Linked DNA regions of Homo sapiens. The protein of the gene in region 1 purifies or fractionates together with the protein of each later gene. This does not show direct contact. Each region holds a gene or a part of one and is shown in the gene's direction. Other genes may lie near its edges.

Region 1 (3,500 bases):
AGAGGAGTGGGAATGGTGTTGGAACTGAGATCTTCAGAAGGGAGAATCATCTAGACTTGGAGATGGGTAGTGAGACACCTGACAATGATGTTTAAGTTCCCAGTATAAGGACTTGGGAGGATATACCATATACTGAGATGGGAGCAGTTTTTAGGGGTATTTTTTCTTTCTGCTGGTAAAACTATAGTAGTTCCTTCTACTTAACTTGAAATTTATTCCAATACTGTGAAACTGTGAAACTCTATTTGGCATGTGGTCAATATTTTAATCAAATAAATATAACCTTTTCCTAGACTTTTTCCCCCTAGTATTTTTGTGCAGCTCATTTTCCCTCCACCCTCTCTATTCCATAGTAAACTACAGTCAAGGAACTCTAATAGGAAAATCTCATACAACTTTATGTGTTCTACTTTGCAGGGTAGTAGATCATGCAGAAGAAAACAAGATGAACTCCAAAAACTTGGGGGTGATATTTGGACCAAGTCTCATTAGGCCAAGGCCCACAACTGCTCCTATCACCATCTCCTCCCTTGCAGAGTATTCAAATCAAGCACGCTTGGTAGAGTTTCTCATTACTTACTCACAGAAGATCTTCGATGGGTCCCTACAACCACAAGATGTTATGTGTAGCATAGGTGTTGTTGATCAAGGCTGTTTTCCAAAGCCTCTGTTATCACCAGAAGAAAGAGACATTGAACGTTCCATGAAGTCACTATTTTTTTCTTCAAAGGAAGTGAGTTTGACCTTTATAGAATTATATTAGAACTTTGTAATATTTATGTTAATAAGTTAAAGATCTTTGAACTGTTTATTTTGAGGTTATGTTTTACTTCTTCCATTTTAAAAATTATCTTGCATCAACAGGATATCCATACTTCAGAGAGTGAAAGCAAAATTTTTGAACGAGCTACATCATTTGAGGAATCAGAACGCAAGCAAAATGCGTTAGGAAAATGTGATGCATGTCTCAGTGGTGAGTAGCCATGTAAAAAAAAAATATGTTTGCTGGCTTAAAATTTTACCAGTAGAACCGTGATTAAAACCAAGGTGAGGGGCAATGAGGGAAGCCAGAGAATGAAGCTTTATTAGTTAACAAATCTTGGCTAGCCATTGAGAAAGTTGCCTTTTAGTGTATCTTGCATTTAAATGAATGTCATTCTTCATAAAAGTCTTTCTTATAATAAGACATCTTGGAGTTTATAATGTTTTTTGTGTTCCTTCTGAATTTTGTTTTTGTTTTTGAGTTTTGCCATCAGCTAAAATCAAGGTAGAAATGTGTTGAGCAATGTGATATTCGTTAGTATCTTCCAGTTCCGTAGTTCAGTGCATTGAGCTAACTGCTCATACAGAGTCAACTAGACTCCTGAAATTCAAAAACTTTAGAGTCCTACTTTTTTTTTGACATGCTTTTTACCTGTGGCCTACATTTAACCTATTAAACACAGAGATGTGTATGTCTTTTTTCTTTCCTTGACTGCGATCATTTTATTCACTTATTTTCTCTTTATAATATTAGTTGCTGTCATTGCTAGTTGTTAAGCTGGTGGAAAAGCTTCCATTTGTATTGTCATTTCTACATTGTTATAGCTAAATTCCAGTTTTTTACATTGCAGCCATATATGTTAAATTTAATGTGTAATCAAGTATCAGTGATCATAGGGTCTAAAAAGGAAAGGAGGGCCGGGCATGGTGGCTCACGCCTGTAATCCCAGCACTTTGAGAGGCCAAGGCGGGCAGATCACCTGAGGTCAGGAGTTTGAGACCAGCTTGGCCAACATGGTGAAACCCCGCCTACTAAAAGTACAAAAAATTAGCCAGGTGTGGTGGTGGGCGCCTGTAATCCCAGCTACTCGGGAGGCTAAGGCAGGAGAATCACTTGAACCCGAGAAGCAGAGGTTGCAGTGAGGCGAGAACGTGCCATTGCACTCCAGCCAGGGTGACAAGAGAAACTCCATCTCAAAGAAAAAAAAAAGGAATGGAACTAACATTCACCAGGTACCTGCCTGTTCTGTGCTAAGCACTGTGCTTATTTGTTTGATTCTATTTGATCTTCATAATAGTTCTGTGCTATAAAGTAAATAGCATTATCCTCATTCAACCCATAACTAACCGTCTGAAAGAGACTAAGTAATGCCAAAGGTTGTTCTCTTAATACATTTGAACCCAGTTCTGATTACTAAACCTAACCTTTGTGGCTATCCCATGAAGCTCTTAGGAACAGTAATAATAATAAATGTCACTTTCCAGTGTTTATTACATACAAGATAATTTTAAGCACTTTTCCTAGTAGATCATTTAGATCACACAGCAACATAGATACACATAGGAGTCTTATTTCGCAGATGAAGACACATAGGACAGTGATATTGCCTAGCCCAGTGCAGAAGTGGCAGGCAGGGCTGAGCCAGGACCCAGGCAACTGTGCTTCAGAGTCTGTGCTCTTCTCCATTATGCTCTAAGTTTTTCCCTCAGAAATTTAAGAATATATGTTGGTGCCTAGAGTCCAATTGCAAGGAACCAGGTCCCTTAGAATGCTCTATAAATGTGTGGAGGACCTGGGAAAGCAAATCAAAAGAGCCTTGGGCCAGGTGTGGTGGCTCACACCTGTAATCCTGGCACTTTGGGAGTCTGAGGTGTGCGGATCTTGAAGCCAGGAGTTCAGGACCAGCCTGGCCAACATGGTGAAACCCTGTCTCTATTAAAAATACAAAAATTATCTGGGCATGGTAGCAGGCACCTGTAATCTCAGCTACTCAGGAGGGTGAGGCAAGAGAATCACCTGAACCCAGGAGGCAGAGGTTGCAGTGAGCCAAGATAATGCCACTGCACTCCAGCCTGGGTGACAGAGTGAGACTCTGTCTCAAAAAACAAAAACAAAACAAAACAATAAAAGAGCCTTGGAACCCAGGGAAGAGAGGCCAGCAGTCCCAGGTGTGGAAGAAGTTCAGATGAGACGATGACCAAAAAGTGACTCTGGTGGGCACCTGTCTGCAAACCACTGCCTAAGAGATGTGGGTGAAGGACTGGGTGGCAGAGAAAGGATTGCATGCTGTGCTTGGGGCCGACTGTAGCTTAAAGTCAGGATGGCGTCAAGGCACAGAGTTGGTGGATGTGTTTCAGCAGTGAACAGAAAAGCAGGAGAATGGAGGGCTGGAACATTCCTGGAATTGGAATTTTTTAGGATAGATGCAGGAACTGAGGCTTCTAAGTGAGAAAACATGGACTGTGGGTTCGGACTATAGAAAGAAAATCCGGGAGCAGGTGGGGAAAATGGCACTTTTTAACTTAAAAGCATTCAGCCTTCATTTGACAGAATGGATTTTATGCTTTATTAGTTGATCAGATATGGAGAGCATCTAAGGCATCTAATATCATATGCTCTCACTGGGTTGAGTGTAACTGAAAAGCAGATTGAGTGAGTTGGCAAAATCCTTGGGATTCAGGGCACACTTACATCTGGTTGGTGTGTAAATTAGTGTCACTTTTCTGAGGTTAATTTT
Region 2 (3,500 bases), on another chromosome or scaffold:
CAAGATCCACAGGGACCTCAAATCAGCAAGAAAAAAAGATAATAATCCCATAAAAAGTGGGAATATGTGAAGAGAGATTTTTCAAAAGAAGCCATACAAGTGGCCAACAAACATATGAAAAAAATGCTCCACATCACTAATCATCAGAGAAATAAAAATTAAAACCAAAATGAGATACCACCTTACAGTCAGAATGGCCATTAATAAAAAGTAAAAAAAAAAAAAATAGATACTGGCATGGATGCTGTGAAAATGGAACTCTTACTCACTGTTGATGTATTAGGTAAATTAGTACAACTTCTATGCAGAACAGTATGGAGAGTTCTCAAAGAACTAAAAACAGTTCTACCATTTGATCCAGCAATCCCACTAATGGATATCTACCCAAAGAAAAAGAAGCCATTATATCAAAAAGACACCTGCACTTATATGTTTATTGCAGCACAATTCACAAACGCAGAGGTATGGAATCAACCTAAGTGCTCATCAATGGATGAGTGGATAAAGAAAATGTCAGATACGGATATAGAGATATAGATAGATATAGATAGATAGATCATGGAATACTACTCAGTTATAATAAAAGAACAAAATAATGTCTTTTTGCAGCAACTTGGTTAGAATTGGAGGCTATTATCCTAAGTGAAGTAACTCAGAAACAGAAAACCAAAAACTGCATATTCTCACTTATAAGTGAAAGCTAAGCTATGGGTATGCATGGGCATATAGAATGGTATAATGAACACTGGAGACTCAAAAGTGGGAAGGGGATGAGAGATTAAATATTACCTATTGGATACAATGTACACCATTCAGGTGATGGGTACACTAAAAGCCCAGACGTTACTACTATACAATTCATCCATTTAACCAAACCCCTAGAGCTACTAAAATAAATAAATAAATGAAAAGACAGCAGAAAATACATGACTAGCCCACATGAATATTACTAATGTATAGTTACCTATATACAGCATATATTACAAATCTCTTGAGGTCTTCTTTGTATCACTTGAGTTCCTATTGTTGCTATAATGAATTATTCCAAGTTTACTGTCATAAAAGCCACACACATTTATTATTTTCCCATTCTGGAGGTCAGAAATCTGAAATTGGTTTCACTGAGCTGAAATCAAGGCGTCAGCAGGGCCAATTCTCTCTTGAAGGTGTAGGGGAGAATCCATTTCCCTGCCTTTTCCAGCTTCAAGAGGCACCTGCATTCCTTGGCTCATGGTCCCTTTCTTTATCTACAAAACCAGCAACAGAGACTCTTCAAATCTCCCTCTCTCTCTTGGACTCTGACATTTCTGCCTGCCTCTTTCACTTATAAAAACTCTGGTAATTGCATTGAGTCTACACTCAGATAATTCAGGATAATTTCCCCATCTCAAGATCCTTAATCTAATCACACTTGCAAAGTCCCTCTTACCAGGCAGGGTAAGGTATTCACAGCTTCCAGAAAATAGGATGTGGTCATCTTGGAGGGGCCATTATCATGTCTACCACAAGGTATTAATTAAAACATCAGAAGCAGTTTTAAATTAATTTGCCTTGTACTTAATTATTATGTATCAATTTACCTTTGGGTCAGATAATATATGTGAGATTGATTCATTAACTAGAAAATGAAAATAAAATTTTTAATAGAGTTTTTATACTAGTCAATTATTTTCTGCTGAAAGGCCTTTAAGTTGAATGTTAAAATTGTTATTATAAACTTCCATGTAATGGTAGTTGGGTAGCAATAACAATAAACTGATAGTTTTCTGCCTGTAGCAGTATTTTGATGAGACTATTTTTGACTGAAACTCTTATTTTGTATTTAAAAAATCACTGCATTTTATGCTGTTATTTGCTTCACTGAATTATTTAATTTAATATGTTCTATTAAAGAGACTTTAAAGCTAGATACAAATTTTTTCTCCGTATACATTTTTAATATTCACATTTTTAACCTAACGACCTAAAGATAAATTTGAATTTCTCAAACTATTCAACCTATAGTTTTTCCTCTGTAAAACTGCAGTGATACTGAACAAAACTGCTGCAAAGAATAAATAAGATAATGTATCTATAACTGTAGCCAAATTGCTGGGCCATAACAGGTAGGTAGGTCTTCAATAAACTTTTAGCCTGATCCAAAATATATTCCACAAGATTTGCTGACCAATATTGAAACATGTTTCTACAAATACTGCAGATGAATAATACTGTGGGTGTTGTTTCTTAGTAAACTTGCCAAATTTTAAATATTTGGTTACTCTACACAATTAAATAAAATTTTAACATGAGCATCCAAGTAACTCTATTTACTAAAAATGGCTGTTTCTTTACATGATATATGACTAATGAGTGAAGCTATCCTATAGCTATACAAAATGATAACGTTAAGCATTTTTTATTTTGTCTATCTAAAGGTGCCAATACATTGTGAAGAAAATTCTGTTAATTTCATTATATTTAATACAGCATATTCCAACTTAAAGTTATTCAGAAGATCAACTGAAGGCAAATCTAAAAGACAGCAGTGCTTTAAGAAATAAAAGTCATAAAACAAAAGTTTTTCAGTGGTTATAAATTACTTTCAAGTTGCATTATTTCAAATTTCTTCCTGTAATCTCATGTTCCTAGCTCTTTAACTCCCTTTGATTAAATGATGTTCCTTTGCTTTCACTATTTTCTTTTTGTGAACTTGTCAAATCATCTTTGTCTTGTCTTGTACAATTTAAGAGACTTTTATGTAGCTCTCTGAGCGACTATCACCACACAAGTCCAACTGGGAGAATAATTTATGAGGTTCAAAATGAAGGGTCATTATGAATGCTGTCTTTCCCGCAATGAATACATACACTCTCTTGTTCATGCATGACAGGATTTTAACTAAATCAATGGAGATAGATGCTTTTAAATGAAGTATTATGAATGATATCATTGGTTACATAAAATAATTTACTTTTTATGTAATCTTTACCTTGTTTAATAAATTTAGAGAACTGGAAGAAAACTTCTTTAGGTGTGGGTTTATCTGTAACTGTCACATAAGTATTTCTTTGGTAGAAAACACAATTTCAAAAGTTGTAGTTTTATGTCCTTAGGTTAACATCTAGTATCCAGTCATAAGCCAGAATATTATGCATAGTAAGTATTCTGCACAATGATACTAAATGCAGAGGAAAAGCAAAGAGAGTAGATTTTCTCAATTTTGAAGAGAGGTTAATTTTTAAGTGTTTTTACTTTATCAAAGTATTCCTGACTGGTGTTCAGCAATCATTGGTTCTAGTAATGTTTATTTGGCTTTTTCTTATCATTTCAGTGCCCAGTATCTTTTTTTTTTATTACAACAGACAAATCTAATTACTTCTGATTAATCTCAATAGCTGTGATTTGGATTATGAATACTTCCCTTCCAATCTAACTGAAATCATAAATGTTTCCATGTCACCTTATTTTTTATAAGCACATGGTGTAAGGCATACCAAATAAGAAAATATATTAACTTT
Region 3 (3,500 bases), on another chromosome or scaffold:
ACATAGAGGGGCGTTCGAGAGTCCCAGGTGCCTCATCGTGGAAGTGGAATCACACAGTATTTGTCCTTTTGTGTCTGGCTCATTTCGCTTGGCATAATGTCCTGAAGGTTCGTCCGTGTTGTAGCGTGTGCCAGAATTCATTTCTCTTAGGGCTGAGTAATATTCTAGTGTGTGTATGAGCCTACTGTGTGTGTTCATCCGTCTGCGGATACGTGGGCTGCCTCCACGTTTTGACTTGTGAATAGTGCAGCAGTGAGCATGGGTGTGCAAGCATCTGTTTTGTTGTTGTTGTTTTATTTTTTAAATAGAGATGGGGCTGGAGCCCAGGCTGGTCTTGACCTCGTGGACTCAAGTGGTCCTCCTGCCTCAGCCTCCCGAAGTGCTGGGATGAGAGGCGTGAGCCACCGCACCCGGCCCAAGCAACTGTCTGCTTCCATTTTTTTTGGTATATGCCTATAGGAGAGAAATGGCCAAGCGGCTGCCCACAGGGCTGGTGCCTGTGTTTTTGTGCAGTTCTTCCTGGGCTTCTCTGAGGGAGCAGAGCACGCCTCCCAGAGGGGGCCGGGTCAGCAGGGTTCGCTGGAACCCCACAGCATCCGAGCCTGAACCGACGCCTCTCTCCTTGCTTTGCCAGGTCCCAGCATGCCTTCTGAGACCCCCCAGGCAGAAGTGGGGCCCACAGGCTGCCCCCACCGCTCAGGGCCACACTCGGCGAAGGGGAGCCTGGAGAAGGGGTCCCCAGAGGATAAGGAAGCCAAGGAGCCCCTGTGGATCCGGCCCGATGCTCCGAGCAGGTGCACCTGGCAGCTGGGCCGGCCTGCCTCCGAGTCCCCACATCACCACACTGCCCCGTAAGTCCTGCTTTTGATCACAAGAGGGCTGATCCATAACCTGGAGGGCAGGAGTTTGTTACCTGGACACCACACAGCCAGGAGGACATGAGGTGTAACCCCCTGTAGTCACTCTGGATTGAGGAGCTGGGGGTGGGGCCATGCCGTGTAGATGAGGCTCTGAGAGGCCAAGGCCTCCTTACGCTGCAGCCCAGCGCCTAGGCCAGTGCCTGGCAAGACAGTGGATGCTCAGCAAGTAGTTCCAGAATAAATAAATAAATGTGCCCAGGTCACATGCTTTGCCCGGTCTGTGGCTGCGTGTGCACATTCACTGGAGGTGAGGGACCAGGATCCTGCCTGCGCTCTCTTATTTATTTATTTTTTATTTTTTTGAGACACGAGCTGGAGTGCAGTGGTGCAATCATGGCTTACTGCAGCCTCAATCTCCCCCAGTTAAGGGATCCTCCCACCTCAGCCTCCCAAGTAGCTGGGACTATGGGTGCCCACCATCACACCCAGCTGATTTTTGTATTTTTAGGAGATGGGGTTTCACCCAGGCTGGTCTTGAATGCCTAGGTTCAAGTGATCCGCCTGCCTTGGCCTCCCACAAGTGTTGGGATTACAGGTGTGAGCCACCGCGCCCGGCCCAGCCTGCACTTTTCCGTTAACTCTAGGTCATGAAGACTTCCCGTAGGCATTACATATTTTTCCATAAGGGCTGTTTTTCTGGTGGCACAGACTGTTCGGTGAAGAAGCCATCATTTTGTAAGCCCTCTACGGGGTAGATAGATGTTTGCAGTTACCTCATTTTACATAACTGCAATAGAAGATACGACACATTCATTTAGCCAACAAGTCTTTCCTCAGCGCCATGTGCATTTCGTGCCCTGCTCAAGGCGCAGAAGATCTATCAGTGGAAAAGACAAATCAACAAAAATCCCTACCCCAGCATGAAACTGAAATCAAGCTCACTAAGCCTTAGGATTATCTTTATTTCCTTAGTGTAATCTTGGAGGAGAACAAATAGATCAAAGAATGTGCTTCTTAGATGTTTGATTCCTTTTTTTTTTTTTTTTTTTTTGAGACAGAGTCTCGCTGTCACCCAGGCTGGAGTGCAGTGGCGCGATCTCAGCTCACTGCAACTTCTGCCTCCCGGGAAGCGATTCTCCTACCTCAGCCTCCCTAGTAGCTGGGATTACAGGCATGTGCCAGCACGCCCGGTGGATTTTTATGCTTTTAATAGAGATGGGGTTTCACCATGTTGTCCAGGCTGGTCTTGAACTCCTGACCTCAGTTGATCCACTCGCCTCGGCCTCCCAAAGTGCTGGGATTATGATTCCTATTTTGTGTCCACCACTACCAGCGTTTATGGTTGTTGATTTACAGTTCAGAATGGGTGGGGGTGGCTGGGTGTACTCTCAGTGCAGCAATAGAAAGAAAGAAGTGACAGTGGACAAACCCAGAAGGTCTGAGTGTCAAACATACTCAGTGCTGGGAGCTCAGGAGGCCAAGCAGATGTGTGGGCAGCCAGGAGGATGGGCTCTTGCTGCCAAGACAAACCCAAGAGAGCAGTGGGTGAGAGGCCCGGTGAGGTCGGGAGTGGCTGCTGGAGGGTGGAGTGGGCAGGGAAGACAGGCCCGATTCCTGAGGGCTCCGTGAGCTCCTAACTCTAGGGCATGAGAAGGAGACGATGCCCTCCAGGTTGTAAATGGCGTTGCACCTGCACCTCACATACTGGCCTCATTCATCCTCCGAAGACACCCCCATCCTGAGACGCAGAGCCGACGCCGCTTGTCTCCAGTCGGAGGGCCCCTGAGAATAGTGGCGTTGCGGGGAGGTGCTGCAGAGGTGGGTCAGGAGTTGGAGGTTCATTCTAGGACAGTGGCGTGTCCTCCCAGGAGCCTCTTGGGCTGTGGAAGTGGGAGTCCTTGAGATAAGGGGCTCCAGGGCTATCCCTGCAAGTCACATCCTTTTTCTTGCTAAGCGCTCTGGGCCTGGCCCTGATCACCTCTGCAAACTTCTCAGGTAACTTCACAGCCACCGAGGCCCAGTGCTGAGTCAGCACACCTGCTGCAGGGAGGCGGGACTCTTCCCGCCTGGCTGGCCAGATGCCCGAACTGAATTAATGAACTAATCCCCGGCGCTGTCACCCTGGGGCTTGGCTTTCCACCTGGCCCTGGCTCTCTACACCTGCCAAGCCTGGTTCCCTTCTGCCGAGAACTGCTTCTGAGGGAACCTCCCTGGCCCCTGTACAGTTTGGGGACCTGGCAGGACTGCCTTCTGCTCCCCGGGAAGGGTGCGATTGGATTCCAGCTGCTCTTGTTGGCGCCTGTTTTGGCCTTCAGGGTAGCTCTCCCTGCAAATGTGGCACTCCCTCCATGGCACAGGACCTCTGGGAGCTGGGTTCACCCCAGGTCTAAGGGTCGCCTCCTGGGGGGCAGGACCCAAGGACCCTGGCTGTTCAGCAGGTGACTGTGCTGAAGAGGGGGCCCAGGGTTAGCCACGGGGTGTCATCGGAGCTGCAAGGCCCAGGGAGGGGTTGCGGGTCTGGAGACCGCTGTAAGCCATGCGTGTTCCCAGATGAGTATGTGGTGAGCTTGGTGCAGATAGATAGGGGGTGTCATCAGCATCTCCCTGGGGGAGGATGGCAGGGGCATGAGGGCCATTTAG
Region 4 (3,500 bases), about 67 Mb from region 1:
ATTGGTTTGTTTTTTTTCTTTTTTTTTTTTTGAGACAGAGTTTCACTCTTGTTGCCCAGGTTGGAGTGCAGTGGCGTGATCTCGGCTCACTGCAACCTCCACCTCCTGGATTCAAGTGATTCTCCTGCCTCAGCCTCCCAAGTAGCTGGGATTACAGGTGTGCACCACCATACTTGGCTAATTTTTGCATTTTTAGCAGAGATGGGATTTTGTCATATTGGCCAGGCTGGTCTCAAACTCCTGACGTCAGGTGATCCATCCACCTGGGCCTCCCAAAGTGCTGGGATTACAGGCGTGAGCCACCGTGCCCAGCTTGTCGGTTTGTTTTGATCTTGCTTGGGGTTTGTAACACATTTTACAAATCTATCTTGATGGCTTTTGTCAGTTTTGGGAAATTCTTATCTTTTATCTCTTTTGCTTAGTTCCTCTTTCCTCTCTCGTCTCCTTGCTTTCCAATTACACTTAGTTTAGGGGTTTTGTTTTGTTTTTGCTATATCTCAAATATCTTTTACACTCCTTCTTGTGTATTTTTATCCTTTTGTTTTTCTTTACTTCACTCTGGATATTTTATAACAGTTTTCTAATTCTCTTTTCAATGGCATCTAAATGGCCTTTTTAACCTTTCAATTGAGTTTGTTTTACAGTTATTTTACATTTTATTTCTGTAATTTTCATTGAATTCTTTAAAAAAAATCCAATTTCAGGTAACTATTGCTGCATAATGACCTACTCCAAAATCCAGTAGTTTAAAACAACTACCTATTTAGTTAGTGATTCTGCTAGTTGGCAATTTGGGCTGGGCTCAGCTAGGTGGTTCTTTTGGTTTCCTCTTGCATCAGTCATGCATGTGTGGTCAGCTGCCAGACTGGCCACGGGTGGCTGATTCATTTATTTATTTTTTATTGTTTTTTGAGATTAGGTCTTGCTCTGTCATGCAGGCTAGAGTGCAGTGGCATGATATCTCGGCTCACTGCAAGCTCCATCTCCCGGGTTCAAGCAGTTCTCGTGCCTCAGACTCCCAAGTAGCTGGGGTTACAAGTGTGTGCCACCATGTCTGGCTAATTTTTGTATCGTTAGTAGAGACGAGGTTTTACCATGTTGGCCAGGGTGGTCTCGAACTCCCGACCTTGAGTGATCTGCCGGCCTTGGCCTCCCAAAGTGCTGGAATTACGGGCATGAGCCACCGCACCAGGCCAGGGCTAGCTGATTTAGAATGGCCTTAGCTGTGTTGGCTTATCTCTGTATCATGTGATATCTTATTCTCCAGCAGGCTATTTTAGGCTTGTTCACAGGTCAGCCAGATGAGGTTCCAAGAGAACAAGTAGAAATGTGCAATGCCTTTTCAGATCTAGGCTTAGAACTAGCAGAACATCATTTTTGCTGCGTTTCATCATGAAGACCAGCCCAGTTCCAAGAGACAGGGAAATGAACCCCATTTCTTGATAACAGAAGGAGCTGTAAAGTCACATTGCAAGGACATGGTATTTTTGCATTCTATCACGCTAGTTCTCTGCTGAAATTCTTAAACTTATGTTTTATTTCCTTGAACATATTAGACATGATTACTTTAAAGTTTATGACTGACAACTCTATTATGTAGATGCCCTGTTTGTTGGTTTCTGTTGTCTCTATTCTTCTGTTGGTTTTTGGAGATGTTTCCTTTTCTTATACTTCACTTTGGATATTGTGTATGAAACATTCTAGGAATAATTTAATGCTCTGGTTGATGTTATTTTCCTCTAGTCATAACTTATATTTGCCTCTAGTTGGCAGCCAGGTTAGGGCTACCAGAGATTCCAGATCATTAGTTCAATCCAGGGTTGTGATGATTCAAAATTGAGCTTCAGTTCCTGTGAGGGCTGTTCATTTCTCGTTCACTCTTACTCTTTGGGTATAGCCCTCTGTGGTACCAACCTCAACACTGATGGATTTTATGTATACCCGCTTTCTAATAGGAGGGACGTGAACTTCATGTTCTCTTAGTTCCTTGAGTTTTATTGTGAGCTCTGCTCAGCTTCTCAGCCTTTTAGCTGCCATTTATGGAATCAGAAGATGCCTCCAGGGAACAACAGTCAGAAATGCTGATCTCACCTCTCTGAATTTCCTTCTTCCAGATATTGGCCCCATAATTTTTCACTGCTTTATAAACTCTCTGATAACTTTAACAATGTGCTTTTACATGTTGTTCATTTTTCTTCTAGCTATTTTTAGTGGGAGGATTGGTTAGCATGTCTTAACCTGGATTTTCATTACATAATTAGAATTCCTTCGATGATTTTTTATCTCAACAATTAAGGGGATGCTGTAGAATGAAAGTGTTCTGTTTCCAGATCACAAACTCTCTGGAGTCAGGAATCATGCCTTATACATGAAGAGGCCCTGCCTCTTCAGGGGCTGGATTGCAGTGGGACTCAGTAAGGACTGAATAATTGATGAAGACAGTATATGTCCTCCTTGTAGGTTTAGTAATGATTTTTTCCATTCACCTTTGTTCTCAGGGTCTTTGTGCAATATTTGGTAGGTTGACTTGTTCTTATAAATAGTGCTAGGATCGTAGGAGACAGAGACACAGAGATGCACAGCACAGTCTCTGCTTTTGAGAAGCTTTTGGTTTGCTAATGGGCAGAGCCAGTACAAGTCATATAAATATAAATGGGAACCTATGTGTTTTAGTCTTAGGAGCATCAAGATCAAAGAAACATATTTCATCAAACAAATAGTATTACAAGTCCTTTAATTATTTACTTAGTCTCTTGAGAAAATGCCAGGGTGAAGCTGTGGCTTGGAGAGACTGCATTCATAATGCACTGGACATATAAAAACCCCTCTGTCTCAATTGCTCTCTTCTTAATAGCCTCCATTTTAACGGAGCCACTTGTAAAACTCTCCCCATCTCTTATTTTCTCTTCCAAATCCTCCCTGAGCCTCCCCAACTCACCCAGAGAGACTTTTTAATTTCCTGCACCTGCTGGGCCATGCCACATAGCTTTATTACTAAAAATGGCTGTAGGAACTTCCAGTTTTGTACACTGACTGCACAGAATTGCTCTAGGTTGTCACACCCCCATATTCATTAGGTTTCATCTTGATTCTTTGAGAGGCAAGTGCTGGGATCTGCCTGGGAAGTGTAGTTTTATTTTTAAAATTGTTTTCTAGGGAGAAATTTTTGTGGAGACTTTCTGATCACTGAAAAACTGGCAAACATCAATAAGTAATGACCAAAATCCAATGAACCAAGTGCCACGAGAGAGGATTATGTATTCAGCTCTGTGAGAGGATGGTTGAGGGGCCATGAGTTCAGCTTGGACGGTTAGTCTTCCTGGGCCTGACCATTCAGAATTTCCAACAGTCACTACTTGCCATTAGTAGTTGCCTCAGCACTGCTTGGAGGGAGTCACCTTAGATGTGGTATTTATAGCATCATGGTTAAGAATTTATCCTCTCAAGCCAAACTGCTGTCTTTACAAAGAGTAAACAAATAAGCTCCCTAGCACCTGTGC
Region 5 (3,500 bases), on another chromosome or scaffold:
GTTCAGCTTCCTTACCCAAAAAATCCCCTATAGTCTTTTCACTCATTGGTATATTATCTGAAATGTTATTTCATTTTAAAATTTATATATTCAACTCAGTTCCTAATTCTGATCTCAACCACAAAGTTGAGATTAGTTTTAGTTTATGTTATGAAAGTGATTGAATATTTCTTTGTACCCATTCCTTCAGTTGGTCAAGAAATTAATTACAGGTATAGTTTTACAATCAAATATACTTTTCTATATGATAATCTTTATCCCATTAATTTTTATTTTTATTGGTTACAATTTTAAAAGCTTACTTTCTAATCAAACATTCTTTAATTTTAATTCCGCAATACACAACTTGCTAAAATTTATTGGAGGGAACCTTCTACCTTCCCTGAGTGTCACTGTCAACATAGCTTTATATTCCTTTCTGCAACTTCATTTGGGGAGCCGTTGAGTTGATTTCATCCTATGGGGGAAAAAACAATTTCCTTTACAGTGTTATTTTTCTAGAAAAAGCTTAAAATTTTATCATGTTTCTAACATTTTAATGGTGATAGAAAATTAAAACTTCCAAAAGAGTAGGCCTATTGAAGAAAGGTACTCTGCCAGACCTACTGCTATCTGGCTTGGTACATCATTGCATTGCTCTACCAAAGTTCCTGCTATTAGAATTTGCCCGTTTCCTACTGACTGGCTCATTGCTGAAGCCTCTGTTTTTCTTAAACATTGCATTGCAGTCTCCAATTGTGTTATATCTATCCAAGTTTTGACTAAAGAAGGGATACTGTTTTGTGACGTAGAAAGCAAATGGGACTTGCTTCTGGCTACCTAGAAGCTTATTTCAGCAGGAGGTAAATGTACTGAACAATTATAGCTGCATATTTGTTTTCTTGAAGCAAGCAGTAGAACAATGAAAATATAACAGTTATGTTTTGACTTTTTATCTTTCATTTTGCTTTATTTGGTGATTGTGCTATAAAATGCCACTGTAAAGATCAAATTGATTTAGGATAATTAAAATTGATTAAGTTTGTCATATATTTTTAAAATGTGTAAAAAGCTTGAATTATAGCCCACCATCAAATTATAAATCATTAATAAACTGTGAAGGCATTTGCATTCTTTTTTTTTTTTTTTTTTTTTTTTGAGACAGCATCTCACGCTGTCGCCCAGGCTAGAGTGCAGTGGCATGATCACTGCAGCCTCACTGCAACCTCTATCTCCTGGGTTCAAGCAATTGTCTGCTTCAGCCTTCCGAGTAGCTGGGATTACAGGTGCCCGCCACCATGCCTGGCTAATTTTTTTTTTTTTGTATTTTTAGTAGAGACGGGGTTTTACCATCTTGGCCAGGCTGGTCTTGAATTCCTGACCTCGTGATCCACCCACCTCAGCCTCTCAAAGTGCTGGGATTACAGGCATGAGCCTCCACGCCCAGCCTGGCATTTGCATTCTACTTACAATGTTGAGTACTTGTCTTCTGCAAGTTACTAGAAATAACGGAATAAGACAGTCAGATTTTACCATTACTGTCTCCAGTGGAGACAATAATTTTAGGAGCTTTATTAAAGCTTAGAAATACTAATATAATCTATCTGTACTTCCGAAAAGTAATGCCTGACATGTATACTTACTTTTGTTGTTTGTAGTGCTAATCCTCCATCTGGAATTGAAGATGAAACTGCTGAAAATGGTGTACCAAAACCGGTAACATAAGGCTTTGAAATCCAGTTACTGATACAAATCTTTATCAATAGCTTCACAGTTTACATAGAAAGCAAGCTGGCATTTTACATTACCTTCAGTATCAGGTGTTATCTGGCCCTTTCTTACATCTCCTACTTCATCTGGTGCCATCAAAAACATATATAGGAATTAAAATGAGGAAAAGAAATAGTAGAAAGACTGCAGAGGAAAATAGTATGTGCAAAGGCTTGATGTTTATTGCTTTCAAGGAATTGAATGGTTATAAATCTACTGAATATAGTGAGCCTGGTTTTCAGAGCAAGTTTTGAGCCCACAACCTTTCACTGTTACGATTTTTTAACGTTGCTTTTTAATGTATGTGACAGTCCCTGACTGCATGCCTGCATGCCATTGATACTTTGTGAGGTGAACATATCATTGGTCCTATGAATATTTGTGCATTTTAATCCTATAAAAGGAAGGAAGTTATTGTTCCGGAAGTTTGAAGTTGTATACAAAAAAGTATTTTGCCTATGTGATCTACTTATTTACTATGATGTGATTAAGCACAAAATAGCCTTTAAGAGCCAAAGTAAAATCTTCACAAATATAGAATTTGCATGTAGGGCCTCTTCTAGGTATACAAGAATACCAAGAATAACTGAGCTTCTACTTAACTATTTGGTACTTCTTATGCTTTGGGGTTTTTTTTTTTAATTCTTTAATTGATTTGGTACATTGTATTTGTGACACTGTGAATCTTAAAATTGTTTTCCTCTTAGATTCTTTTTTGCCAAGACTTCTCAAATACTTATTTTTTATAATTTTATCTTGTAGGTATCTTAGTAAGTTGCTTTAGATCTTTTTGCAAGAGGGGCAGATATGATAGTTAAAAAAAAAATGAGGTGTTGTTTACCACAAGGAGATGATGCCAAAAAGATTTCATTTCTTTATTCATAGTCTTATCCTTTTTATCCTGTAGAACATCAAAATTATGAGTTGAAATAGGTGGCAGCATTATAAGCTTGTAACTTTTAAATTGTATCTCAAAAAAATACAGAGTGGGGCCGGGCATGGTGGCTCACGCCTGTAATTCCAGCACTTTGGGAGGCCAAGGTGGGTGGATCACCTGAGGTCAGGAGTTCGAGGCCAGCCTGGCCAACATGGTGAAACCCTGTCTCTGCTAAAAATACAAAAATTAGTTGGGCATGGTGGCGGGCACCTGTAATCCTAGCTACTCTAGAGGCTGAGGCCGGAGAATTGCTTGAACCTGGGAGGTGGAGGTTGCAGTGAGCTGAGATCATGCCACTGCACTCAAGCCGGGGCGACAAAGTGAGAGTCTGTCTCAAGACAGAAGAAAGAAAAAAAAAAACAGGGTGGTTACTTTTTTTAGTTATTAGTATTAGATGTTGAAATGGATTACTGAATGTATTTTATAATTTGTTTATGTTCATGTAGAAAGTGACTGAGACCGAAGATGATAGTGATAGTGACAGCGATGATGATGAAGATGATGTTCATGTCACTATAGGAGACATTAAAACGGGAGCACCACAGTATGGGTAAGTTATTTTTTAGTAAGTAACAATTGTGTAAATGCTATATAGTAAGGAGAGTGTGCCTATATCAAACTCTCAGTGGTTGAGTCCATTGTTTTTACATTTTTCTATTTTAACATAAAAGAACTTGTTAAAGTTTCATCATGAATATACTTCTTTGCTAAAATACAGTTAATTGATTAGGCGAAGGTACATAGAAGCAGCAGTTTTTGATGCTGAATTTAAAGTGTTTTTATAAAAGAATTGAGTGCTAGGCCAGGCATAGAG
Region 6 (3,500 bases), on another chromosome or scaffold:
GGCTCAAGCAGTCCTCCTGCCGTAGCCTCCCAAGTAACTGGGACCACAGGCTTGCCAACATATCTGGTAATTTTTAAAATTTTTTTTGTGAAGATGGGGTCTCCCTGTGTTGTCCAGCCTGGTCTCAAACTCCAGGGTTCAAGGGATCCTTCCGCCTCCGCCTTCTAAAATGTTGGGATTACAGTCATGAGCCGCCATTCCTGGCATTAATTTTGAAGTAGTTTATAAAATATGGTCACAGCAAAAGAAGTAAATGTAAGTTACTTAGATTTTCCAAAAGCCTTTGATAAAATTCCAGTCAGCAGTTGGAGGGGAAAGCACATTATGTAATAATAACTGGGAAAATGACTTTTAAGAACATGAAAAATAGGCTATGCATGGTGGCTCATTCTTATGTATAATCACAGCACCTTGGGAGGTTCAGGTGGGAGGACTGATTGAGCCCAGGAGTTGGAGACCAGCCTGGGCAACACGGTGAGACCCCGTTTCTACAAAAAAAAAAAAAAAGGTAAAAAAAATTTTACAAAGAACAGGAAGAATAAAATTATACTAATAAAGAAATTTTATTTTTTTGTACAGAATTATAAATAGTGATCTTTTCAGTGTAGCTATTTGAAATGGTCCTATTTAACATTATTATAAATGACTTGGAATTGAATGCATAGTGATATCCCAGTTCTAGGAAGGACTGTATTTACTTAATAAAACGCCAAGGTAATAGGGATAAACTTGATGAGTACTTCATATGGATTGATTTTTTTTTTTTTGAGATGGAGTTTCGCTCTTGTTGCCCAGGATGGAGTGCAATGGCACGATCTTGGCCCTTTGCAACCTCCGCCTCGCAGATTCAAGCAATCCTCTTTCCTCAGCCTCCCAAGTAGCTGGGATTACATGCATGTGCCACCACACCTGGCTAATTTTTGTATTTTTAGTAGAGACGAGGTTTCACCACGTTGGCCAGGCTGGTTTTGAACTCCTGACCTCAGGTGATCTGCCCGCCTCAGCCTCCCAAAGTGTTGGGATTACAGGTGTGAGCCACTGCACCGGCTGTATACTTCAAATGGATTTGTGAGTCAAGTATTTCCCTGCTTTTTTTTTTTTTTTTTTTTTTTATTTTTTTTTTTTTTTAAGGAAAAGATTATCCTGCTGGGCACGGTGGCTTAAGCCTATAATCCCACAACTTTAGGAGGCTGAGGCGGGCGGATCACCTGAGGTCGGGAGTTTGAGACCAACATGGAGAAACCCCATCTCTACTAATACAAAAATTAGCCAGGCGTGGAGTTTCATGCCTGTAATCCCAGCTACTCAGGAGGCTGAGGCAATCACTTGAACTGGGGAGGCCGAGGTTGTGGTGAGCCGAGATCGCTATTGCACTTCAGCCTAGGCAACAAGAGCGAAACTCCATCTCAAAAAGAAAAAGATTATGCTTTTGAGGATGCTTATTTCGTATCCTTAGAATGGTGGGTTTTCAGATTTATTATTACTTTTTTAATGCTGTAGAAAGAGAGTTTATGAAGCTAGACATAGCTCCTGAAATGTAAGAAACTGGCAGAAACAGTATTGGGAGTAACTGCACAGGAAACTTTTTGGATTTGTGAATTAAGATTTTTGTGGGCCAGGTGCCGTGGCTCAACGCCTGTAATCCCAGCACTTTGGGAGGCCAAGATGGGCGGATCACGAGGTCAGCAGATCAAGACCATCCTGGCTAACATGGTGAAACCCCGTCTCTACTAAAAATACAAAAAAAATTAGCCGGGCGTGGCGGTGGGCGCCTGTAGTCCCAGCTACTCGGGAGGCTGAGACAGGAGAATGGCATGAACCCAGGAGGTGGAGCTTGCAGTGAGCCGAGATCGTGCCACTGCACTCCAGCCTGGGCGACAGAATGAGACTCCGTCTCAAAACAAAAAGAAAAAGATTTTTGCTGATGATCCACCCAGGTTGGCTTTCTTCTGCCCTTAGCCCCTGTACCTCTAGTCATGCCCTGGAGCTTTGCTCTGGCTCTGATTGCAAGGAGTATATCCTTCTTATTAAAAGAGAGAGAAGCCTGTTAGCATTTAACGAGGCTATCTGATAGCACCAGAATAGAAGGTAGTGAGTAGTTAAAAAGTGAAATTTGAAGAGGAAATTCCTAGCCATTTTGCCAGTTCTGAAGGTTTTCTATAATTCTTCCCTTTTATTATGATAAAGACTTGAAATTTGGGGTGAAGTGAATCTCAAATCAAAAAAAGAAACTCTCAAATCAGTTTGTCCACTCTTCATGTATAGGTTAATATATATTTTCCCCTCCTTTTAACTTTTATTTATTTATATATTTATTTATTTATTTTTGAGATGGAGTCTCACTCTGTCACCCAGGCTGGAGTGCAATGGCGCCATCTGAGCTCACTGCAACCTCCACCTCCCAGGTTCAAGCGATTCTCCTGTCTCAACCTCCCAAGTAGCTGGGACTACAGGCACCCGCCACCACACCCAGCTAATTTTTGTATTTTTAGTATAGACAGGGTTTCACTATGTTGGCCAGGCTTGGCTTCAACTGTTGACCTTATGATCTGCCCGCCTCATCCTTCCAGAGTGCTGGGATTACAGGTGTGAGCCACCGCGTCCAGCCTTATCTTTTAAGTTATATCTTTTTTTATTTTTTTGAGACCTGGAATCTCTCTCTTTCCCCCAGGCTGGAGTGCAGTGGCTGCGCGATCTCAGCTCACTGCAACCTCCGCCTCCTGGGTTCCAGCAATTCTCCTGTCTCAGCCTCCCGAGTAGCTGGGATTACAGGCGCCTGCCACCACACCCAGCTGATTTTTGTATTTTTAGTAGAGACGGGGTTTCACCATCTTGGCCAGCCTGGTCTTGAATTCCTGACCTCACGATCCACCCGCCTTGGCCTACCAAGTGCTGGAATTATAGCCATGAGCCACTGTGCCAGGCCATATCTTTTTATTTCTTATCTGTTAAGCTTAACAAGGACAGAGATTCCCTTTTCTGTATATTCTCTAAAGCAGTTTCAGTAAACTTATTGAATGAATGGATGATCTGGTAGTTATCCAATATAGAGATATTCTTTCAAACATTTTTATATATATTTATTTTTTAGAGACGGGAGATCTCGCTCTGTTGCCCAGGCTGGTCTCAAACTCCTGGCCTCAAGCTGTCTTCCCACCTCAGTCTCCCAAAGTGCTGGGATTGCAGGCATGGGCCACTGCACCTGGCTAGTATAGGGATATTCTTTTGGATGTCATGACCTTTTTCAAAATCCACTGATTAATTTGAAGTTGTTGATCCTTTTTAGAGGATTGATTTTAGGCACATTTTGGAATCAACAGATTCCAGATTTAATATCACCTTTTAACATACTAATTCTAAGTTTAGCTGTGATGAATCCAAATTTAAATGTGAGAGGACTTAATACATTAAATGTGGCCTAATAATCAATGTGGCATTGATATGTTATATATCCTGTCAAGTCCTCAGGCATTTTTGTATGTGTGTGTGTGTTTTTCTTA
Region 7 (3,500 bases), about 120 Mb from region 1:
GGAAGCTGTGGATCGGAAAAGGACCACTTTTATTCTGATGATGACGCAATAGAAGCTGACAGTGAGGGTGATGCTGAGCCCTGTGACAAAGAAAATGAAAATGATGGAGAATCAAGTGTTGGGACTAATATGGGCTGGGCAGATGCTATGGCTAAAGTCCTCAACAAGAAAACTCCTGAAAGTAAACCTACTATTCTGGTCAAAAATAAGAAGCTGGAAAAGGAAAAAGAAAAGTTAAAGCAAGAAAGACTAGAGAAAATAAAACAGGTATGTTCCACCAGTTCTCTTGTAGATTAGATTGTTTGTCTAGGCTAGCTCTTATCTTGACCGAACTGTTTCTTGCAGTGTTTGACCAATTAACGTTCCAGTTTTTAACTTGTTTTTTATGTGAAGGTGGATAACTAAGGTTATGTTTAGGAATTTAGTCTAAATTATTCCATTGAGCATGTTCACTTTTTAATCATCTATGCAAAGGCAAAGTAATAGAAATGTAAACGCTGAGGAAACATCTTTTTAAAATCAAGTAATTATACACATGGTAGTGATTCCTGAGCCTATTTTATTTGTTTTAGCTGTCTGTTTGCTGACTTTATTAGGTTGTGAACTAAGAAGCATGTTAGTTACTTTTTTTTTTTGCCAAAACTTATTTTACAATAGGAATCTGTGACAATGTCGTAACTCAAGGATTGGTTGTAGTTCTGAAAACGGATTATTTCAGTGTTAGATACAAATCAGTGTTGGATAAATTTGAATTCATTATGCTTTTGTTGAACTACTGATGATAGTTGTTAGACTAGGTATAATCTATTAATTAAAGGCCAAAAGTTGTACATAAATTTGTGGTTTATTATAAAAGCTAAAAATCCATGATAAGGCTTTCATATCACCTGTACTTGATGATCTCTGTCTAAAATACTTGGTTACTAAATTAAGCATGTTTTTTAATTAAAGAAAAATAACTTTCTACAAATGTACTGGCAGCATAGAAGTACTAATTCCCAAAGTCACTTCATAGGTAAAAATGAAAGAAACATAGGTTTGAACTGACATATATTTCCTTTTATGTTTACCATCTCCTTTTCTTGTTTCAAGATGAATGTTTTCTTTGTTCTTAATACTGGTTGCTCTGTGTGAAAGGTGGAAATTTTTAAGTATTGCTCTTAGAAACACAGCATACTCTATTATTAATTCAATATTCTTATTGTACTTTATTTAAGGTAAGTTTTGTCTTTAAATCTTATGGATAGCTTTTCAACTGAAAATTTGAATCTTTGTTTATTATCTGGCAAATGCTAGAAGAGGCTTCAAAAATATCAGAATCTTTGATTTCCTCTGGTCTCAGAGTTCTAGTGAGGGTAAGAACATTTTGAAGCCAAGAGGAATGAGTCTGTAACTCTGCTCTAGGCCAAAGCTTTGAGTGCTAGAGATGATACTGTCTCCATAATGCATGAAAGCACATGTATTGATACCAGAAGCAAGACATGGCAGCTACAAATGCTCTTTGTGTGTATTTCTTAGAAGAGAATATGTAAATTATTATTTCCTAATTTAACTATTATGGTTTTCCAATATATCAGCTACTTATTTCTAATCATAAATACAAAAACAAATTTCAGAGTTAAGAATGTTTCAGGATTAAGCATACATATTATCCTTTGAGTACGGAATATAATTAAGAATTGACTGTTTCAAACTTAAAAGTAAGATTTTAAAAAAAAATTCCTGTCATAATCTGACAGTGAATTTCATGACCACTAAAATGAATTGTCTGGTTAGGAGAATAATCTATTACTTTAGAAAGCTATCAGGCTAATCTTTATAGTGAGCGCAAGAATTTGGTTTTACTGTGATTAGACACTTTCATTAATACAAAATGAGAAATAGAAGAGTAAAGGCATAGATAAAAAAAGAAATTTTAATAAAAACGTTGTCTTTATTACTGGTTTTGATGCTTGCCAGCATTCATTGATTAATGCATTATATCATTATATTTGATATTTGGTTAAATGTTGGCCTGAGAAGGAGACATGAACATGCAATGTATCAAATCAGATTCCTGGGACCAGGATACTATTTAAAGACAAGTTCAAACTAAATTATGTTACCTAGGGAATTTTCTTATTTCCCACCTCCCCTTCTGCTTCTGTACAGTTTGCTGTAGCTTACAACTGATAAACCATATATGGCAAGACTATTGGTCAGATATGCTACGAGAGGAGAAATGGATTTAAATGATTCTCTGCATAGAAAAATAGTCATTGTATAAGTATCTGGATACGATGCTGTTCTTTTAAAAGCTGATACATTTTCTTAATAGTAATTCTGATGACTGAGGAAGTCATTTTCTGAAAGTAAAGATAAACTTATAATTTTCAAAGAGGGTAGTTTGGAATTCTTCCTTATGCTTCCCTCTGATGATCTGGTGATGGCAGAGCAGGCATGTGGCTCCCTCACACCCTATCTTGTACTGCCTGGCCGAATATGCTGGCAGCTCTCCAGGCCCCTGCTGTCAGAGGGCCTGACAGAAACTCACTTTGTGCCTCTCGCATGACACGCTGAGTGCTAACCACAGGCTCTCGAAGCTAAACCCCTAACATTGTGTTTTTTTAAAAGCCCCTGACAAACTAAGCCAGAATGATTTATTACCTTCACCCTTTCACAGAGTATCATACCAATGTTTGCTGCACTTTCAGAAATATCTAATATTCTTTCACATAACAATATTTATAACGCAGCGTGATAAGAGGCTGGAGTGGGAAATGATGTGCAGAGTAAAGCCAGATGTTGTCCAAGACAAAGAGACAGAGAGAAATCTTCAGAGAATTGCAACAAGGTAAGGTAGTGTTTTTGCCCTTTAAAAAATAAGTATACTAAAGCTATCATAGTGGTTCTATTTTTGACCCAATTTGATTCTTAAGCTCAGCCTTCTCAGAGCCAAGTGATATATATCTAAGCCTGCCTGTTCAACACTGAATTCAACCAAAGATTTTCCAGGTCTCGTGAAGCAAGAATATAATGTGCTAAGTGTATATTTGGTAAGAACCTATTTCAGATCATCTTGTTTTTATAGTCACGAGAACTGTGTAATCAGACCTCTTACTGCATTTCTCTTATGATGCTTGTCTAAATTTGTGGCACTCAATGATGGTTTTTATCTTGCATTATATTTATGGCATAATACATTACACATTATAGCTATTTCATGCTATCTTTTTACTCTGCTTATTTATTCATTGGCACCAAACGTTTACTTGATGCCCTCTGTGTCCAAAGACAAACAGGATATGGTGGCTGCTAGGTGGTCCTTGCCTGGTCATCTGTAGGAATTACAGTCTCTTTGAGAGTAGAATTATGTCTATGTGTTGGGAACATAGAACAGGAGATTGTCTGGGAGAGTTTGAGAAGGCATTACAGAGGAGATAACATTTGGGCTGCTGCTAAAGAACCTAGCAGTTATATTTAGCAGAATTACTTTTAAATTCTTGTTACCTAAATTATTT

The links.
Region 2: the proteins of ARHGAP29 (region 1) and SYT1 purify together in Homo sapiens (co-immunoprecipitation; one large-scale study listed by IntAct). This does not show direct contact.
Region 3: the proteins of ARHGAP29 (region 1) and CBS purify together in Homo sapiens (affinity purification with mass spectrometry, with the first as the bait; one large-scale study listed by BioGRID). This does not show direct contact.
Region 4: the proteins of ARHGAP29 (region 1) and CD244 purify together in Homo sapiens (co-immunoprecipitation; one large-scale study listed by IntAct). This does not show direct contact.
Region 5: the proteins of ARHGAP29 (region 1) and FIP1L1 purify together in Homo sapiens (affinity purification with mass spectrometry; one large-scale study listed by BioGRID and IntAct). This does not show direct contact.
Region 6: the proteins of ARHGAP29 (region 1) and CCNT1 purify together in Homo sapiens (affinity purification with mass spectrometry, with the first as the bait; one large-scale study listed by BioGRID). This does not show direct contact.
Region 7: the proteins of ARHGAP29 (region 1) and RRP15 fractionate together in Homo sapiens (co-fractionation; one large-scale study listed by BioGRID). This does not show direct contact.

What each region holds. Positions count from the first base shown.
Region 1 is NC_000001.11:94,175,085-94,178,584, reverse strand, and holds part of ARHGAP29 (rho GTPase-activating protein 29), read left to right. Parts: intron 1-417; coding exon 418-733; intron 734-864; coding exon 865-973; intron 974-3,500. UniProt on the Homo sapiens protein: GTPase activator for the Rho-type GTPases by converting them to an inactive GDP-bound state. Has strong activity toward RHOA, and weaker activity toward RAC1 and CDC42. May act as a specific effector of RAP2A to regulate Rho.
Region 2 is NC_000012.12:79,280,774-79,284,273, forward strand, and holds part of SYT1 (synaptotagmin-1), read left to right. Parts: intron 1-3,500. UniProt on the Homo sapiens protein: Calcium sensor that participates in triggering neurotransmitter release at the synapse. May have a regulatory role in the membrane interactions during trafficking of synaptic vesicles at the active zone of the synapse.
Region 3 is NC_000021.9:43,069,336-43,072,835, reverse strand, and holds part of CBS (cystathionine beta-synthase), read left to right. Parts: intron 1-634; 5' UTR 635-642; coding exon 643-851; intron 852-3,500. UniProt on the Homo sapiens protein: Hydro-lyase catalyzing the first step of the transsulfuration pathway, where the hydroxyl group of L-serine is displaced by L-homocysteine in a beta-replacement reaction to form L-cystathionine, the precursor of L-cysteine.
Region 4 is NC_000001.11:160,842,388-160,845,887, reverse strand, and holds part of CD244 (natural killer cell receptor 2B4 isoform 1 precursor), read left to right. Parts: intron 1-3,500. UniProt on the Homo sapiens protein: Heterophilic receptor of the signaling lymphocytic activation molecule (SLAM) family; its ligand is CD48.
Region 5 is NC_000004.12:53,380,641-53,384,140, forward strand, and holds part of FIP1L1 (pre-mRNA 3'-end-processing factor FIP1), read left to right. Parts: intron 1-1,637; coding exon 1,638-1,695; intron 1,696-3,132; coding exon 3,133-3,236; intron 3,237-3,500.
Region 6 is NC_000012.12:48,710,208-48,713,707, reverse strand, and holds part of CCNT1 (cyclin-T1), read left to right. Parts: intron 1-1,131; exon of another isoform or gene 1,132-1,457; coding exon of another isoform or gene 1,458-1,460; intron 1,461-3,500. UniProt on the Homo sapiens protein: Regulatory subunit of the cyclin-dependent kinase pair (CDK9/cyclin-T1) complex, also called positive transcription elongation factor B (P-TEFb), which facilitates the transition from abortive to productive elongation by phosphorylating the CTD (C-terminal domain) of the large subunit of RNA polymerase II (RNA Pol II).
Region 7 is NC_000001.11:218,302,293-218,305,792, forward strand, and holds part of RRP15 (RRP15-like protein), read left to right. Parts: coding exon of another isoform or gene 1-1; coding exon 2-267; intron 268-2,735; coding exon 2,736-2,833; intron 2,834-3,500.